2 linked regions of the Homo sapiens genome follow. The protein of the gene in region 1 purifies or fractionates together with the protein of each later gene. This does not show direct contact. Each region holds a gene or a part of one and is shown in the gene's direction. Other genes may lie near its edges.

The links.
Region 2: the proteins of MYLK4 (region 1) and SUPT20H purify together in Homo sapiens (affinity purification with mass spectrometry; 2 studies listed by BioGRID and IntAct, with this or other methods). This does not show direct contact.

What each region holds. Positions count from the first base shown.
Region 1 is NC_000006.12:2,747,918-2,755,573, reverse strand, and holds the start of MYLK4 (myosin light chain kinase family member 4), read left to right. Parts: upstream 1-4,651; 5' UTR 4,652-4,838; intron 4,839-6,167; coding exon of another isoform or gene 6,168-6,279; coding exon 6,280-6,438; intron 6,439-7,656.
Region 2 is NC_000013.11:37,056,614-37,063,804, reverse strand, and holds the start of SUPT20H (transcription factor SPT20 homolog), read left to right. Parts: upstream 1-4,116; 5' UTR 4,117-4,246; exon of another isoform or gene 4,247-4,610; intron 4,611-7,191. UniProt on the Homo sapiens protein: Required for MAP kinase p38 (MAPK11, MAPK12, MAPK13 and/or MAPK14) activation during gastrulation.

The sequences.
Region 1 (7,656 bases):
TGAGACCTTGTCTCAAAAAGTAAAATAAAATAAAATAAACGGAATGACCATTTCCTAAATAGATAAAAGGAGACTAAGAAGACATGGTGATTAAATGCGCTATGTAATTTTTGAGTAGATTCTGTTATGTGAGAAAGTGTCTTTTTTCTCAAGAAACATACACCAATTCATATAGGGGTAAAGTTTCATGAGATATGCATCTTACTCGCAAAAGAGAGAGAGAGGGCAAACATGGAAAATGCTAACATTTGGTGAATATGGGTGAAGGATGTATAGGTATTCATTGTACTATGCTTGCAAATATCCCTTAGAAAGTTTAAGGGATATAATTAAAGGAACAATTTGTGTAGCCACTGTAGAGGTAATAAACTGAAACTTTATGTAATATTTCTGAAAAATATTAATTTTTAAATGATCCAATCCATATTTTTATCTAATTTTTAAAACCTGTTTTATTTTCATTTTTGTATTTCGTAATACTTAGCTAATTGCTGTCACTTAGAAGTTTTAGTGGTCTAATATCAAAATTTCCTGTAAAGAAATCTGGATATTCCATAACATCATTATCTTTCTTGCTCAAAGTATCCTATCTCCAAGCAGAAAATAAAAGATAGAAATTACTTTTAAAATTACTATTAATTTTTCTATTAATTACAAAATCTTATATTGCATGATATTCATGCCAGGAGAAGAAAAGCGTGAGACTCTTAACTGTCTCCTGCTCACCATTCCTTTTCTTTGGCCCTAGGTGACCTGGCAAGTGTGGAATATAATTTATGTTTCCCTGGATCCCAGCCTTGGTCACTGGGGACAGATGACCACAAAGTGTTCAGTTTTTTCCTCTCCTTTTAACAAGCTACTTTTTGTTAATCATATTATTGGGTTTTCTTTTTCTTAATGACTCTATTGAAGTATAATTTACATATTATAAAATTCACCCATCTCAAGTGCACAATTCTGCATTGTTTTAAGAAACTGAATGAGTTGTACAGTCATCACTACCACACATCATCGGGTAAGATTCTGTTTACAATTAACCCCCATTCCTGCACCCAGCCCCCGGCAACCACCAGTCTGCTTTCTACGTCTATAGATTTGTCTTTTCTGAGCATTTTATACAAATGGAATCATACAATCTGTGCTCTATGTTTCTGGCTTTTTTTTTTCAATTAGCACAGTGTTTTCGCTCATCCATATTGTAGTAGATACCAGTATTTCATTCCTTTTAATTACGTAGTATTCCATTTGTATGTGTATACCACATTATCTTTTCCCAGTCTCCAAATCATCCGATGGACATTTTGGTTGTTTTCAGTTTTTGGCTATTGTGAATAATGCTGCTGTGAACATTCATGTGCCATGGTTTCTGTGTTCATATGTTTTCATTTCTCTTGGGTAGATACCTAGGAGAAGAATTTCTAGGTCATATGGGAAATAACTTTTTAAGAAATTGCCAACCTCTTTTATAAGACACCTGTATCATTTTATATTCCCATCAACATATTTGGTGAGGGTTCCAGTTTTTCCACATCCTTGTCAACACTTGCTTTTCTCTGTCTTTTTTTTTTTTTTTTTGGTAGAGATGGGGTCTTGCTATGTTGCCCAGGCTGGTCTCAAACTCCTGGACTGAAGTGATCCTCCTGTCTTGGCCTCCCAAAGTGCTAGGATTACAGGTGTGAGCCACCACACCCAACCTATCTTTTATTTTTTTCATTATTATTACAGCTCTCCTAGTGGGTGTGAAATGATGTTTCCTTGTGGTTTTAATTTGCATCTCCCTGATGACTGATTTTGAGCATTTTTTTTCATGTGCTTATTAACCATTTTTATATCTTCTTTGGTGAGGTCTGTTTTAATCTTTTGTCCATTTAAAAAACTGGAATGTTTTGTCATATATTATTAAGTTGTATATGCTAGATGCAGTCCTTTGTCAAATATGTGACTTCACAGTATTTTCTATACATCTGTAGCTGGTCTTTTCATTTTCATAATAGTGTCTTTTCATTTTCCTAATAGTGTTTTTTCAAAGGCAAACGTTTTGAATTTTGAAGAAGTGCAATTTATCAATCTTCGTTTTTATGGGTCGTATTCAGTGGTGATTTTTGAAAGTAAGGAAGTTCTATTGTAATGTGGGTAACAGGGATGCAGTAGCTTTTTATTTGCATTTGGGTATTTGTACTGTTGCTCCGCTTTTGTGTGTAAACATTCAAGAGGTCTTGTTCTGGAAACATTCAGAACGCTGTGTAGAAACAAAAACTCTTAGTGTAATCCAGCCGGGTTTCAATGCCAACCCGTAGACAAGAGCTGTCGACGATGTTTCTTCATGTGGCTCCTTTGACAACACAGTCTCTTACTCAGCTAATGGAAATGTCCCTTGAAAAAAATCAAGGGATTCTTTTCCATGGCTCTGTAGGGTGCTGTTTTCCTGATGTTGGTATTTTTTAGAGAAGTATAACTCCAAAATATGGAAATACTGGAAAAGTGTTCCTGGGCCTGCTCATATTCCTCACTAATGAATTTTTCCGGGTATAAGAGCATCTTTAAGCATGCAGAACATTTTATGGGTATGGACTTAGGATCCTGAGGCTAGGCTGATAGACCAGAATGAGTATGCATGTATAACCTGTTTTTTTGTGGTCAAGGGTTGTGCCAGCAGTGTGCTTGTCCTGTATGCCATCGGAAGCTGGGAACAGTGTGATGCAGCAGAACCAGACAATCAGTCACTTTTAGCATGGATTATTTTAATTGACTTGCTTTTTAGGGCAAGTAGACACAATTAAAGATCATTCTATCTAGTCATTAATCAAATATGTATTGAATGTATATTGTGCATGGAAATGTCTATATGTGGATGCCTTCCAAATTCTTATCTCCAGCCTACACCCCTCCCCGGAACTCCAGTTTCTATCTCCACAGCCTATTCAACTTGAACGTTTAATGGACTTGCCAAAGACTTCATGCCTGACCTTTCCCTCCAGAGTTGCCCTTCCCACAGCCGTCTCCATCTCAGTTAATGTTCACTCTGTCTTTCAAGTGCTCAGAAGAAAATATGCAAAGGTGTCTACCATCTTTCTTTCATACCCCATACCCAATCTATCATAAATCCTACTGATTCTAAATGTACTGTGGAATCCTGCATGGGATTCTGGAACAGAAAAGGGGCATTTGGGGAAAAAAAAAACCCAGCAACAATAAAGTATTGAGTTTAGTTAATAATAACGTTCACCATGGTTCATTAATTGTGACAAGTATACCATACCAACGTAAGATGTTAAAAACAGAGGATTCGGGGTGCAGGGCAAGGGGAACTCTGAACTACCTTTGCACCTTTTCTGTAGATGTAAAACTACTCTAAAAGGAAAAGTTTATTACAAAAAAATAAGCTAAGGAGCAGATTCTCCTGGCCTCTGGCTCACTCAAGCCTGTGGTTGGTTTGCTGGAGCCAACGAGATAGGAAGTCTGCTTTTGCGTGGTGGTGGTCCGGGTGGAGGATGTGGTTGGATCAGCAGCAGCCCACACACATCTTGCCTCTGGCAGGGCATTTGTTGCCTTATCAGTACTTCTACACAATTTAATTATACTAACAAAATTGGTAACCTCAAACCAGCTTAGTCTTTGTATAATACTTTTGTCAGATAATTTATCTCCACAAATTTATAGTTCCACTTCATTACTTTTGCTGAAGAACAAAGCTCTCCAATCTGAAAAATAACAAGCGTTTTGTGTTTTAAAAAAGATTTTGCTGTAATTCATTAATACTACATAAAATGGAAAAATATGTATTTTTATTTCACATGGAATGCATCGATCTGAATTAAAAATAAGGTTTTTTTTTTAAAAGAAGCAGAAGAGCAGCAGAGGCTGGTGTTAGAATGGGGCATAGAGGGGCTAACACAGGCTCCAAATAAGAGGTGACAATTGGCCAGGCCCTGAAAAATTGCAGGGTTTTCAAGACTGCAAAGTCCAGCCTCTGGGCAATCAAAGTTTTATGCCACTTCAGTGAATCTAGGGATGCACTACTGTGAGAGTCGGGCAGGTGGGTTGAAATTCCCCTTTCTTGGTCTGTGCAGAAAACTACGGATGAAGTCCTAGTGTTGCTTAAGGAGAATTTATGAAAAATTTATTCCTGTTTCCTGGATGCCTGTGCCTTTGACCTTTCCCTAGAGCTAGAAATGGTTGGAGACTTTGCAAACATCTTTAAGAACTGAGAAAAATAAAACAAACTTGCTAACTGCTTTCAGAAGATCTTCTATATTGCAGTTGGATATGCTCAAAGCGTAAGATGGGCAAACAGAGGTGGCTGTGGGGTTGCCACACCTGGCATTTTCCCTACTGGGGGAAATTTAATGAGCACTTAAATAATCCTGAGTCTGAAAGGGGCAGAAGGTCCAGGCAGATGATTGCCGAGGACAAATCTAGCTTTGTAAATCCGAGAGTATTGACACAATGATACGAGGGAAAGGTGAAGGTGATATTTCATCCAGTGTTCCCGGTTCATCCTCTCCTTACCTGACCTCTGAAATGGAGCCATTGGCCTTGAAAAGCCTGGTGTCTAAAATTAATATTCTTCCCCATCTGACTAAGAAGGCAACAGCTGAGCAACGTGAGATCAAGAGCCATATTAATTTAAACAGGGGCTGAAAGTGGCATTTGAGAGAGAAGATACTTCCTCTCGTAGTGGACACTTGTCTTTTCAGAAGATTTATACGACTGAGAGTCAAAACTTTTACCAGAGACTTTCATAGTCAGTTTGAATTCTGCAAAATTTCTCTTTATCTTCTGGAATGTATGCTCTAGACTTGGAGTGGCTCAAGCTCTTCGATGTGATCCTATCAATGGTAATTATCTTTGTTTATTGTTATAACCTCTCAAATCTCCTCCCCTTTTTTCTAAGTTACCTTCAATAACAAATTGTACCAAACTTCAGGTAGAGCTTAATGTTTAATATTTCTTTGCAAAATTATTGTATCTTAATCCTAAGCTTTTGTTTTAATACATTAATTTTGTGTGGCTTCCTGATCCAACTTGAGTTTCATCTGCAATTAACCATAGTATTTTAGTCGTAGTTTGCCTTAGAAATAGCCATGCATTTGTTTCCTTATTTTAATAATTTTTTCAGGGCAATTTGAAAGAATGCTAAGAATGATCTGTAATATATCTGTAGAGCTCTGGTTGATAGTATTAATATTTGCATTTTTATTTGTTTGAATGTAAGCTCTTTATGTGGATAAGTATAATTTGTTAGAGCAGTGAATTTTAAACACTTTGGAACTCAAGAGTATCATTTTACTATAGGAACTGACAAAACAAAATATTAAGTTTTCTGATGAGAATCACAATACGGTTTTTAAGCGGAGAAAATGCTCGAAGAGGCGCTTTTCGGAAAATCTCCACCAGGGGGCCTCAGTTGTCAGCCATGCGGAACTAGCACAAATTCAAATGTCTCTCCCTCTCCCTGCCTCTCTATGCAATCAAGTGATGTGTACATATAGACATGCGTATATGTCTCTAGTATCAAAGCGAATTATGTATGCTGCATTACTTCATTTGCGAGGAAAGTATTTTAAGGAGAGTGAAAAGACTCTGAACTTCTCGGTACATAGCTGTTAATGCAGATGCAAGGAAAGGTATCTGGGAGTGCTGTCCACGTGAGAAGACTGTAAGGAAATAAATTTCTTTTCACAAATAAACACCACACATTTTAAGGCATAGGTAGAGAAGAGTTCTGGAAAAGGACTCATTCGGGAGCGATCCCTCTGCAGAGGGAGGCCAGGGGAAGCAGAGAGACCCCTTCTGTGATAAGCCCTTCCCACGGGGCTGCAAAACCTGCGGTTCCAATTAAACCCAAAGATACTTTATAATTTACATCCAAGCTGGCCACTTGATCTACGGCTTGTTTTGTGCAATAAGGAGCATATTTCATCACCAGTGAATCTTGACATTGCTTCTTACTGTTTGCTTTTGTAGTTTTAAAGTGAAAAAATTTTTTTTCCTTTTAAAGTTCCAATGTTGGAAACTCAATATGAATGTTAGTATTTCTTTTCCTGATTTTGGATCCTCTCTCCAGTTTAAACAGAAGGGACTTCCAAATTCTCACTGGTCATTTTCTCAAGAAGTCAAATGCATGAATACGTGATGAGAACTTTTTGTGTTTCCTTTCTTTGCAGTCAAGAGAAAGAAGCACTGAAGAGTCATAATTGTGTCCTGATTTATAAATCGGAGACAGAGGGAGACGAAAACCACACTCCAGAAAGTAGCTTAATCGGACTCACTACTAAGATGTTAAAAGTGAAGAGGCTGGAAGAATTCAACACGTGTTATAACAGCAACCAGCTGGAGAAAATGGCCTTTTTTCAGTGCAGGGAAGAGGTGGAGAAAGTGAAGTGTTTTCTGGAAAAAAATTCTGGGGACCAGGATTCAAGATCTGGACATAATGAGGTAATCATGTTCTAATTTAGTCTCCTAAAAAGTATTCATTCTATCTTATCTTTTCTAATGTCATGGAGCCGCTTGTGAGTACAATTAAGGAAAGTTTATGAATAGGCATCATTCCACTTTGCTTCAGTGAGAATTGTGTGTGTCGACTATACAATTGTGTTTGGTAAATAATTAGGAGGCCTTTGAAACTGCATTTCTGCCAGCAGTCGACTTCACTTTTAGTTAGTGGCTTAGGAGTTATACAGCCAGCTTGCAGAAATGAAGAAGAATCCTTTAGCATGATGGATTTGGGCTTGAAATTCAGAAAAGGGCTCTGAGAGGCACACTGTTCTGCAGAAAGAAGTTTCTCCTTTTTCCTTCAGATCTTGAGTTCCTCACGCGGTAGACAGCAGAGCTGTTGATAGTGAAGTCCAGAGAAGGGACAAGAAAGACTTGCTGATGGCACGACGGTGGGGCTTGTACCCTCCTCTGTGCAGAACGAGAGTTCTGAGCCCCATTCCAGCTGCTCGTTCTTGGGAAAAATATTAATTTAACCAAGGGCTTGCCACATCTGAATTAGTGAGATAATAGCAATTGTGAAAATTAAGTGTGATCACGTCTGTAAAGCACTCCGCCTAGTATCTGTCACTAGAGTCAGCATTTAATATGTGTTAGCGGCAGCAGCAATTACCTCCCCTGCCTTGGCCCAGTCAGTTCCTGCCCATCATCCGTTGGCTCCTTGCCCGGTGGGAGCATCAAGCATTTTGCCCGTGCCTTCATTCCAGCACATGTGGTGGTTTTGAACATGTTGATCACCTTTCTCTAGACAAGGCTCCTTAAGGTTGGGAAACCTCGTGTTATTTGTTCATGTTTCCTCAGTTGCTTTCCTAGTAACGGAAACAAATAGGCACCAAAAGTGTTTTTGGAATGCACAGATCTATTTAAGTGAATTCTGGTTGAGGGCTGGGAACCATTATTTTTGATAATCAGAGCAAGTGATTCTTATCAGGCAGGTTTGGAAAACATCCTTCTTTGCCCAGCTACTGTTCTAAAAAACACTATTCAGGTAGGAAGGGCGTTTCTAACAATGCAATAGACAATGAAATAGAGAGATTGTATATAAAAGGTCTAGGAGGCTTTTTATTGTAAGTGAATAAGAAATGACAAAATGTGCTGGAGAGAATAAATGAATCAGATTGAAACATTTTTTTGAGACCTCTGCTTTCCCCATGAGTTCAA
Region 2 (7,191 bases), on another chromosome or scaffold:
AACAATTTCATTTATAATAGCATTTGCTAAGAACTAAATATGTCCCCTCAAAATTCACATATTGAAGCTCAAACCCCCAGTGTCACTGTATTTGGAGATGGGACCTATATAAGAAGGTAACTGAGGTTAAATTGATCACAAGAGTGGAGTTCTGATGCTATAGATTAGTATCTTTATAAAAAAAAAAAACAACAAAAACGACCAGATATCTTTCTCTGTGTGTTTCTCTGTCTGTTTCCCTTTCCTTCTCCCGCTTCCTTTATCATATGAGAATGCAGAAAGAAGGTGGCTATCTACTCGCCAGTAAAAGAGCCCTCACCAGAAACCAAATTGGCAAGCACCTTGATCTTGGACTGCACAGCCTCTAGAACTATGAGAAATAAATTTCTGTCGCTTAGGCCATTCAGTTTATGGTATTTTGTTATGGCGGCTTGAGCAAACTAAGATAGATTTTGCTACCAAGAAGTTGCATGTTGCTTTAATAAAACCTAAACATGTGAAAGTGGTTTTGGAACTAGGTAATGGGTAGAGGCTGAAAGAATTCTGAGGTGCATGCTAGAAAAAGCCTAGATTTCCATGCTAGAAATATGGATGTTAAAGGCAATTCTGGTAAGAACTCAGAAATACAGTTGAAGAGAAAGCCTCCATCTTCTTAGAGAAAACATAATCATGAACACAATTTTGGTAAATATATGTTTGTTAAAGGCCATTCTTGTGAGGTCTCAGATGGAAATGAAGAATGGGTCACTGGAAGACAGAAGAAAGGCAGTCCTTGTTATAAAGTAGCAAATAACTTGGCTGACTTGTTTTCTAGTGTTTTCTGGCAGACAGAATTTGTGAATGATAAAATTGAATATTTAACTGAGATTTTTAAGCAAAATGCTGAAAGTGCGACCTGGATCTTCCTGAATGCTTATAGTAAAATGCAAGAAGAGATGAATGAAAGAAGAAATTATTAAGCAAAAAGGAACCAAGACTCAAATATTTGGAAAATTATCTGCCTGTCATGTTGCAGAAAATGAGAAAGTACATTCTAAAGAAAACACCAAAGGTATGGTTAGACTATCATTTGATAAATAAATGATGAGATTATATGAGCAGAAACACTGCCTGTTTCAACTGAAGGGGATGCAGACAAGACAAAAATGACAGAAGGCTTTTACATGTCCTAGATTCTACAGGACAGGACAATAGAGCTATCCAGCTGCTAACTTTGTACTATTCCTTTTTTTTTTTTTTTTTGAGACAGATTCTCACTCCATTGCCCAGGCTAGAGTGCAATGGCGGGATCTCAGCTCACTGCAACTTTCACCTCCCAGGTTCAAGTGATTCTCCTTCCTCAGCCTCCCAAGTAGCTGAGATTATAGGCATGCACCACCAGGCCAGGCTAATTTTTGTATATTTAGTAGAGATGGGGTTTCACTATGTTGTCCAGGCTGGTCTCAAACTCCTGACCTCGTGATCTGCCCACCTTGGCCTCCCAAAGTGTTGGGAGTACAGGCGTGAGCCACCGCACCTGGCCAAACTTGTGCTATTCTTTAAGAAAAGGGGAGAATGACCTCAAAGCAATTCAGATGTTATCAAGGCCATTACCTAGCAAAACTTTTGGGATGAGACTCTGCCTGGAAGAGCATGCCTGGCAGAGTGTGGGGAGAGGTATAGCATCCACCTAGGGTCCAGAAGGCAGGGCCACCACCCTTGTAGGTCTGGAAGGCAGGGCACTGAATCAAAATGGATTATTCTTGAGCCTTAAAATCTACTAGAATTTGCCTTGCTAGATTTTTGGACTTGCTTGGGACCTGTCATCCCTTCCTTTTTGCCTATTTCTTTTATTTCCTTCCTTTCTTGCTCCTATTTTTGTTTGTTTGTTTGTTTGGAATGCCTATTCTATGCCTGTTCTGCCATTGTATTTTGGAAGCAAACAACTTCCCTGGTTTTACAGTTTCATAGCTGGGGAGAAAATTTGCATCAGGATGAATCATATCTCAAGTCTCACCCTTATCTGTTTTAGGTGATATTTAGAAGAGACTTCGGACTTCAGATTTTAGAGTTGATGCTTTTGAGACTGTTGAAGTGGTATGAATGTATTTTGTATTCAATAAGGACATGAATTGCAGGGGTACAGAAGTCTGTTGACCAAATTATATCTCCACAAAATTCATATATGTAACCCCAAACCCCAATGTCACTGTATTGGAGATAAGATCTATAAGGAGGTAATTAAGGTTTAAGAAGATCATAAAGGTGGGGCCCTTATCCAATAGAATTAGTTACTCATAAGAAGAGACATGAAAGCTAGTGTGCTTGCACAATGGATTCTTGGTGATGACACCAAAAGCACAAGTAACAAAATAGATAAATTAGATTTCATCAAAATTAAAAAGGTTTGTACACTGAAGGATATTACAAAGAAAGTGAAAAGACAACCTACAGAATGGGAGAAAGTATCCACCAATGATATATCTCATAAGGGTCTAATATCCAGAATATATGACTACACATAACTAACAACAAAAACACAAACAACTCAATTTAAAAATGGGGAAATACCTGAATAGAGAGTTCTCCAAAGAAGATATACAAATGGCTAACAAGGGCATGAAAAGATGCTCAAGATAACTAGCCATTAGGGAATGCAAATCAAACCCACAATAAAATACCACTTTATACCCTTTGGGATGGTTACTATCAAAGGAATAGAAAATTATGGTGTTAGTGAGGATGTGGAGAAATTGGAATCCCCCGACAATGCTCTTGGTATGTAAAATGAATGGTTCAGCTGCTGTAGAAACATTTGTTTATGGGTTCCTCAAATATTTTCACGTAGAATTACTATAAGACCCAGAAGTTCCACTATGTTTATACCCAAAAGAATTGAAAACAGGGACTCGAACAAATACTTGTATACAAATGTTCATATCATTGCTATTCACAATAGCCCGAAAGTGGAAACAACCCAAATGTCCATCAGTGGATGGACAGGTAAAACTGTGGCATCTAGGTACAGTGGAATAGTAGCCATAAAGAGACATGAAGTACCGATACATGCAACAAGGTGTACAAGGTGAACCTGCAAAAGATTATGCTACGAAGACAGACCAAAAGGTCACACATTCCATTTATATGAAATATCCGTAATAGGTACCACAGTTTGAAAGCTGATTGGCATTTGCCAGGGGCTGAGAGAGGGAGGAATGGGAGTAACCACTTAATGTGTTCGGATTTTATTTTGGAGTGTACTTTAATACACTTATAATGTGTGCAACCACTAACTCTAATTCCAAGACACTTTCATTCATTATGACCCTTGGCATTGTGAACGGCAAATAATAAATGCTCATTAAAAAGATTCACCCCAGGCCGTGCATGATGGCTCACGCCTGTAATCCCAGCACTTTGGGAGGCCAAGGCGGGTGGATCACTTGAGATGAGGAGTTCAAGAGCAGCCTGCCCAACATAGTGAAACAGTCTCTACTAAAAATACAAAAATTAGCCGGGTGTGGTGGTGCACGCCTATAATCCCAGCTACTCCGGAGACTGAGGCAGGGAGAATCGCTTGAACCCAGGAGGCAAAGGTTGCAGTTAGCTGAGATTTCTCCACTCCACTCCAGCCTGGGCGACAGAGCGAGACTCTGTCTGAAAAACAAACGAACAAACAAAACAAAACAGACCTTACAATGTGTGCTAGTAATGCGGTTTCTGAATTTTTAGAACCCTTCTCTGGGGTGGTTTTTTTAAAAACATAAACTCATTGGCAGTTGATATACTACAGAAGGTTGTACGCATTGGACTAGTAAATGTAGGTAACGGTGTCGCTGTTTTTCCATTTGTATGTGCTAAGCAAAGAGAAAAGCTAGTTCTATGTTTCTTCCACTCTAGAAATTCAACAGGGTCGTTTTTCCCCAAATTCACATCTACACCCTCCCTCCCACTTTGCGGACTCGGACTCCAGGATTGAGCAGAGATCCTGGGCCCCGCCTCCCGCCCGGACGCAAGTCTCTGCGGGCCTCACCGGCGTCCTGCGCGGAACGCAGCGCTCCAGGCTCCTGGCAGCGGCCCCGCCCTCCCGGCTCCTCCCCTTCCGCCCGCCTTCCCCGCCCCTCGGCCCAGCCTGCCAATCGGAAGTGCGGCCGCCGGAACTGGCTGTTGGTGGGGGTGCAGCACTGAGCCGCCGACGGGGCGGGTGGGCTTTGCTGCCGAGCAGGCGGCGCCGTCTTGGGGCCTAGCGGCGAGGCGACCCGCACAGGTGGGCGGTGGCGGTAGGTGGGTGGCCAGCGACTGGCAACGCGGTGGCTTAGACGCGCGAGATCCGGCCAGGGTCAGAGGTGAGCGGGCCGCATCCCAGAGCCCGCTGGAGGAAGACGGGGTCCCCAGAGACCCGGCAGGCCGGGGCGGAGGTTGAGGCAGCTAAACTCCAGGTGGACGCCTACATCGCCTTTCGCGGTGTTGCTAAGCCGAACTTTTAATTTTAGTTTGACTTTTGGGTTCCAGAGACGGGTATTTCCGGACACTGGCAAGAATTTTGCCTTGCGTGTCTTCGAAGGCGGTTTTCTTGGTGTCCATATTGCATAAAGGCTTGTCGCTCCTCTGTGGAGATGACGGTTGTACAGGTAAAGCCTAAGTTGTGACAAAAGCTCCTGCAATGGGAAGACTCTGGTCGATCAGGGAAATCAGTAGAATTGATAGCAACGCGTAGAATTGATAGCAACGCTTAGAATTGGATTAATTACTGGCCATGGTTACCCGGCGCTCAGAAATGAACTTGGAGAACAGTTGCCCTGGAAGCCATCTCCCGTAGCCACTGCGTAGTGGGGGCCGCGTCTTCTTGAGTGCAATTCATCAAAGTCTCTAGTAGGACTCAAAATATAAAGTGACGAGCAGGATTTTCGGAGTCGAGTACAGTGTACTTGGGTTGATCACCATGTTATAAAGTTAGATCCAAATTAAGAAATACATATTCGTCTCTGAGCAGAATTGGGTCCTTTTTTTAATTGCTTTGCTTTTTTTAAAGAAATGTAAAAACAGATGCCGGTTTGATTAGTTTGCAGGTTGTAATATTGGAAGGGACCTAAGATTGGACACAGAGTTCTGAATTCTGATCTAGGTCTGTGATGTTAGGAAAGTCAGTTGTTCTGATTGCCTTATTCTGTAAAACGGAAATGATAATGATTACAGTTTCCTCACAGGTTCTAGTAAATTCTGTGTATAGACAGAATGTTTGCTTTGTGAGAGATATGAAGTTATTAGTTTTTGTCTGAAGTACTTAAATAATTTAAAGTTAGTAAGCCCCCATCCCCAATTTAGTGACAAGAAATCTTAAAGTCATCACATTTTGTCCGAAAAGTACATAGTGTATCTTCATCTTCAAATTCAGTGGTCAGAAAATTTTCACGTTCACCTAAATTCAACTTAAACCTCCTACGAGCTTTTCAAGGGTAGGAGTAATATCTTACTCATTGTAAATGATCGTAAATCATTTACAGTTGTATGGTGCTTGTGTTTGTGTTGTATTAGGAGGTTAGTCCATTTTTTAAAGTTTCAGACGGAGTTTCACTCTTGTTGTCCAGGCTGGAGTGCAATGGGGCGATCCTGGCTCACTGCAACCTCTGCCTCCCAGTTCAAGCCATTCTCCTGCCTCAGCCTCCGGAGTAGCTGGGATTACAGGTGTGTGCCAACACACCCGGCTAATTTTTAATTTTTTTAGTAGAGACTGGGTTTCACCATTGTTGGTCAGGCTGGTCTCGAATTCCTGACCTCAAGTGACCCACCCGCTTCTGCCTCTTACAGGCCTGAGCCACCGCCCCAGCCAACTTTTTTTTTTTTTTTTTTTTGAGACGGAGTCTCTCTATGTCGTCCAGGCTGCAGTGCAGTGGCGCGATCTTCGCTCACTGCAGCCTCCACCTCCCAGGTTCAAGTGATTCTCTTGCCTCAGCCTCCTGAGTAGCTGGGATTTCAGGTGTACGCCACCACACCCGGCTGATTTTTGTGTTTTTAGTAGAGACGGGGTTTCGCCATGTTGTCCAGGCTGGTCTCGAACTCCAGGGCTGAAGCAATCCACCTGCCTTGGCCTCCCAAAGTGCTGGGATTATAGGTGTGAGCCACTGCACCCGGCCTTCTGTATTTTTTTGTAGAGACACTTTCCCCATGTTGCTCAGGCAGGTCTGGAACTACTGCTCCTGGGCTCAGGCCATCTGGCAGCCTCTGCCTCCCAAAGTGCTGGGATTACTGGCGTGAGCCACACCCCACCTGGCCCTTTCCTTTTTTTTTTTTTTTTTTTTTTAATGGCTTGGCAAAAAACAAAGCTTTGGGGTTCACCAAAAATCAAAGCAAAACTGTTTTACCTGGAAAATCTTGTTTTCTGTCATCAGAAGTTGTGCTTTAGTTCAGCTGTGTAGACACCCAGTAGTGGTTACATGAAGTTAGGTGAATAGATTAAAAATAATTTTTATTTGTCATCAGTCTCAGAGCAAATGTTTTCTATTTATTTTTATTTCTAACTTTTTTTTTTTTGAGACAGGGTCTTGCTCTTTTACCCAGGCTGGAGTACAGTGGTGTGATCATGGCTCACTGCAGCCTCTATTTCCCAAGCTTAAGTGATCCTCCTGCCTCAGCCTACCGAGTAGCTGGGACCTGTGCCACCATGCTGGACTAATTTTTTTTTCTTCCCTTAGTAGTGACAAGTCTCACTATGTTGCCCAGGCTGGTCTCAAACTCCTCAGCTCAGATGATCCTCTCACCTGGGCCTCCCAAAGTCCTGGGGTTACAGGTGTGAACCACCATGCCCAGTCTTATCTCAGAGCAAATGTTACGCACCATCCTTTGCTAGGCAGAGTGAGCTTCAACCCTGGCAGCACGTTTGACTCGTCTGGGGAGCTCCAAAAATGGGGACTGTGCCTCACTCTAGACCACTTAATCAGTCTCAAGCAGGTGGGTCACAGGCATCCCACAGTTTGAAGCTCTGCAAGTTACTCTTGTGCAGCCAGGATAAGAACTCCTGTAGTTATAGAAAAGAAGATTTTCTTTTTTTTTTTTTCTTTTTATTATACTTTAAGTTTTAGGGTACATGTGCACAACGTGCAGGTTTGTTACATATGTATACATGTGCCATGTTGGTGTGCTGCACCCATTAACTTGTCATTTAACATTAGGTATATCTCCTCATGCTATCCCTCCCCCCTCCTCCCACCCCAA